Regions from separate parts of the Homo sapiens genome. Here region 2 is linked to region 1. Evidence: fine-mapped expression QTL. Tissue or cell type: whole blood. Region 1 holds a variant in brackets; the other region holds the start of a gene. All regions are shown on one strand. Distances are between the middles of the regions.

The links. PIP is the estimated chance that this variant, and not a neighbour inherited with it, causes the effect.
Region 2: TUT7 starts here. The variant in region 1 is fine-mapped to the expression of TUT7 in whole blood (TOPMed, PIP above 0.99).

What each region holds. Positions count from the first base shown.
Region 1 is chr9:86,401,985-86,404,744 of GRCh38, reverse strand. No RefSeq gene overlaps it. Among named protein-coding and RNA genes, the nearest start is that of TUT7, 49 kb to the right of the region's middle. The variant C/T (reference allele first, on the strand shown) is at 1,671.
Region 2 is chr9:86,353,215-86,355,835 of GRCh38, reverse strand. TUT7 (terminal uridylyl transferase 7) reads left to right here and starts at 1,426. Exons shown (of 27, transcript NM_024617.4): 1 at 1,426-1,565; 2 at 2,606-2,621. RefSeq lists a silencer at 1,168-1,347 and an enhancer at 1,368-1,577.

The DNA.
Region 1 (2,760 bases):
ATGGCCTGACATGAGTCTGATTTTGCCCAAGCATCCTCACAGGACCTCTTGAGAATGTAATCATTCTACTACTTTGTCTGAGGGTAGAAACAGGGAAACAAGGGAAAGCTGGAAAGTGATTGTAGGAAGGCCCCGTAATGGGACCATGGTAGGAGGAATGTGTCTCAGGAAAGGTGAGAAAGTTATTCTCACTTCCTCTCATCATTCTCTTCATCAACCTCTCCTCAGACGGCATGGGCTAGGGCACTGGACATCCTCCAAACTTGATCAGTTATATGATATCACTCTAATATAACATAATGTTCTTAGTCTATTTTGGCTTTTATAACAAAATACCATAAACTGGTTGGCTTATAAACAACAGGAACTTATTATTTCTTACTGTTCTGGAGGCTGGAGTGTCCCAGATCAAGACACTGATAGATTCCATGTCTGGTGAGGGCCTGCTTCCTGGTTCTTCTCACTGTGTCTCACATAATGAGGGCGTTCTATGGGGTGCCTTCTAAAGGGGCACTAATCCCATTCAAGAGGGCTTCTTCATCATTGCCTAATCACCTCCCAAAGCCTCCACCTCCTGATACCATCACCTTGGGGGTTAGGATTTCAACATACCCATTTTGGAGGTACACAACATTCAGCCCATAACAATAATGAAATTGTATCCTTTTAGCAGCAGGTACCAGAATTCATCTTGTACAGGATCCATCATTGTTGGGAAAAGACCCTGGGTCAGCCCACTTCAGCCAGGGAGGTACCCATGGGGTCATGGATGTTGGCTGGCACTGTGGCTTCCACAAAATTATCCTGAGAAGGGTGAGATGTCTGTGACACTCCTGAAGTGAAGGAGGAAGAAGAGACTGAAGGAAAGAGAAAGTTAAAAGAGAGAGAAAAAAGAAGAGTCAATGCAGTGATAAAGAAGACAGCCCCTCAAAGTCTCACCAAAGCCACTAAGCCCATAAAGGCTTGGAAGTGGGTTAAGAGTATGAGTGGGGTTTGTGTCCAAGTTGACAGATCATAAAGCAGAAAAAATACAGGCAGAAGTAGAGCTAGAAGGCAATGTGGCCTCAGCTGCTAGCTGGGTTACATAAAATATCATATGATTAAACACATAGTAAGTCCTCACTTAACGTTTTTGATAGGTTCTTGGAAACTGCGACTTTAAGCAGAACTATGTGTAGCAGGTCCTCAAATAGCATCGTTTTGTTCAACATTGTTTTATTATAACGTTGATTAAAAAAAATTGGTTTTGTCACACATCATTTTGCTTAAAGTCACAGTTTCCAAGAACCGATTGAGGTCATTAAGTGAGAACCTACTGTATGTATTTCTACTAAAGGCTCAAAATATTAAGGTGCAAAAAGATCTAGAGATGAGACAGTGTGTAAGTGGCATGCCAAGCAGAGGGAACCCCCGTGCAGATGCACAGAGACAACCATGAACAAAGTCATGCACCCATCAATATTTGCTGAACTCCTGCCATGTGCAAAGGAACTATGCCAGGCTGTGGAACCCCATGTTGAGCAAAACCAGAGTCCTGGCATTCACACACCAATGAGAAAGACAGACACTAATCAAGTCACTGCACAAAAGTCTATAAAATGACAGTGGTCAGGAGGGCTATGCAGCCCTCTCATGGTGCAATGAGAGAATGAACAGGGAAGCTGGCCTCG[C/T]CAGGGGGATCAGAGACCTCTTCCACAAATAAGCAATGCTTGGCCTGAGAACTGAATGATGAGACCTTAACTAGGTGAAGAAAATAGAGCAAAGCACCCCAGGAAGAGGAATATGGGTGGCAAGTTGGAGGACTGAAAGAATGCAATGTGTGTTTAGGGCAAAAAGAACGCTGGGGAGAATGAGCAGCATGAAGCCGGGAGGTTGGAAGGAGCAGGTTTCTCAGGGGCTGCAGACCACGTTACCAAGTTTAGTTTTTACCATCAGGGAGAGAGGAAGTCACTGACAGGAAACTGATAGGAACACCCAAGAAAGTCTGAAAATGGCAGATGAGTCCTCTGCATATGCATAAACTGTGTCTCCACTTTACTTAGCATCTCCATAAACTATAAATTTGGCTTACCCTGAGTTGCTGGGCATGCCCCAAATGAAAAAATATTTAATTAACATCATTAACTTAGAAGGTTGGGCACAGTGGCTCACACCTGTAATCCAAGGACTTTGCGAGGCCGAGGCAAGAGGATTACTTGAGCTCACGAGTCAGAGACCAGACAGGGCAACATGGCAAAACCCCATCTCTACTAAAAAAAAACAAAAAACCTGGTGGGTGCTTGTAGTCCCAGCTACTCAGGAGGCTGAGGTGGGAGGATCGCTTGAACCCGGGAGGTGGAGGTTGCAGTGAACTGAGATTGCACCACTGCATTCCAGACAGCCTGGGTGACAGAGCACGACTCCACTTCAAATTTAAAAAAAGACAAAAAGTAATAGAAGGAAAAAATTTTAGCTTACTAACTGCATTGCCATAATCAGTATTTTTAAAATGAGTTTTCTATCAATACACAAGAAAAACCCTAAATTCTGAACTACCACTGAAACGTAAATACCCAGGATGTGAATTCACAATTTAATGTTTAATTTTTAGTGACTTGAAGAATACTGATCAAACAGCCGGAGTTCTATTTCTTTTTTTGTTTGTTTGTTTGTTTGTTTGAGACAGAGTTTTGCTCTCATTGCCCAGGCTGGAGTGCAATGGTGCAATCTCGGCTCACGTTACAACCTCTGCCAGTTTCAAGTGATTCTCCTGCCTCAGCC
Region 2 (2,621 bases), 49 kb after region 1:
ATAAAAGTTGTAGGAATGTGTTTTATATCACTTTTAGTATAGCCACATGGTTAATAACAGCCTCATATTCAGGGTCTGGATTGCAGCAGTGCCATTTACTTCACTGCAAGTGCTAAATGTCCTCATCTTTAAAAGTGGGATAATGATATAGTCTTCATGAAGCTGTGAGGATTAAAGAAGTTAAGGCTGGGTATGGTGGACCACCCCTGTAATCCCAACACTTTGGGAGGCCAAGTTGGGCGGATGGCTTGAGGTCAGGAATTGGAGAGCAGCCTGGGCAACATAGGAGACCCCTGTCTCTACAAAAATATAAAACAAAGGAGTTAATATTTGTAAAGCCTTCAAAACAGTTATTGGCATAGCCAGAACTTTGTGTGTTATTATTTTAAGACCATTGCTCCACAGGACCTGACAGCTTTCAATTTACATGCTTTAAAAAAGCAGAGAAATGAAAACTGTCGATTTTCCCAACGCTCCCTAATTTCACTAGTTGCTTGATGTTTTTCAAAGCATTTAGAACACTGTAAACAGCAAGGAAGGTCATACAGTAAAGAAAGAAAAAGCAACCCCGAGTTCGAGGTGTGCACTCTTCAACTCAAAAATTCGAATGTAACGCTCTCTGGTCATCCCTTGCCATTACACATATTCTTCGAAATGAACTGATTTTTTTTTTTTCCAAGTAAAAGTAATCCTTACACAACCTAAGAAAAAAGCAGAGCATTTTCCTTGACCACTTTGAGATCTGGGTGAGCAGTGGATGTTTAAATGCTGGCATTTCTACAAGGTCGGCAATTAAGAATTCACGAAAACATTAATCACTACGAATTATCAGAAAAACACCAAGAGCGCTACGAGGCCTCGGAGCCTTTACTCCCCCTGGAAGTAACCGGGGAGCACCCAGGGGCAAAGCCGAGGCCCCAAGCGCGGGGAATGCGGCTTTGCCCGACCGCTGGCTCCGCGTCCCTCTCCGGGTGCATAAGTCTTGGCTCCCGCGCCTCTCCCGAGCACTTAGCCTCCCGAGCAGAGAGGGGAACCAGAGGAGCGTCGAAGCCGGGAGAGAAAAGGGGCGGGCGCCGCTCTGGTAAGAAGTTCGGGCCTGGCCCCCAAGCGCCGGCGAACCGGCTATCCGGCGAGCCAGTAATTAGCCCGCTCCGACGGTTGCGCCCGGTGGCCAGACCCGGCGCCCGACACCTGGAGCGAGTGCGCTGGGGCGCCGGACAGGAGAGGCCAGGCTGGCAAAGGCGCGGGAGGCGGGGTCGGAGCGTGGGCGGGGCACCGCGGGGCGGGGCGCGTCGCTCGTTTCCGGTGTGCGCGGCGGAGCGCTAGGGCGGGGGCACAGTCGGCTCCCAATCGCGCACAATGAGACAGCGCTGAGCGCCGGAAGTGGGGCCGAAGGAAAACACGGAGAGGGAGCCCGGCCGGGACAGGAAGAGGCTGGGGACCGCGGCGAAGGTGGTGAGTGCTCTTGGGCGCCTTCTCCCAACGTCCCTGCCAGACTCGCCTCCGGGCTGATTCTCCAGTTGGTTTCCTGGACTCCAGAGTAGCTGTCCGGCCTGGCCCCGGAGGTACGTTGGTTCCATCCCCCGCCGGCCTCCTCGCACCAGTTTGGGTGACCGAGGAACCCCCAGGCCGGCAGAGGCTGAGCCCTCGGGTTCGAGTCCGTGTTTTCACTTTTTGTCAGACTGCGGGCGCAGAAGACGGGATTTGGGTCAAGACATTCGGCTCTGGCCCCCTGGCCGGCCGGGGGAACCCTGGAACCCCATGGAGACAGCAGGTCACTTCCTGCTTCCTGGTCCCCACGGTGGCTTCTTGGCCAGGAGTGCAGGGACGCCTCCTCTTTCTCCACGTCGGGCTCAAAAGGGTGGAAACTAAGGCAGATCGGTGGTGGAGCGGTCAGATGGGGATTGAAGAGGAGTGTCATTCCTCAGGGAATTGCTGTTCCTGACAAAACCAAACTTGTTTGGGGTTGGAGAACGGGGATTGAGGAGGTTAGATGGAGTTGTCCCTTGATCGGAAACCCAGCCTCTTTAATTACAGCTGCACCTTGGTCGGAAGCCCAGCCCCTCCGTAACCTAAGCGCTCAAAGCCGGTCTGTCCAGAATAGGGGTGGTGAAGGGACGGAAAATTGGAGTTGAGAAATGTAGTACTCCTTTCACGTAAAGTTTCGGTGTATAACACTTACAAGTAATTGCCAACTTAAAAAACAAAAGACTGTTTCGGTAGTTTAGTAATAATATTGGCTTGGGATGAGGTTTTCTTTGAAGAGAAACGCCTTGTTACAGAGGGAAAAGCCGACCATACTTGATATGAGTAATATTCTACTATGCTACAGTTCTGGAACCTATAGAGCTTCTCTTATTCACACATTTAATCTTCATGCTAAATAGTAAGTATTAATTTTCATGAAGAATATTAGAGGACCAAGCCTCCCAACCTCTAGGGTAAAGCACTGATTATTAAGAATGTGATAGAATTTTTATTTTAAAAAAATAGGGAGTTTCTTTCTTACAGGCTTTGGGGCATCTGTACGATAAATTGTTATTTTGTATACTTGTATGATATCTTGTTATATAGTTTGATATTTCCCCAAAATACCTTCTTTCAGGTGCAAAGTAAGAAAA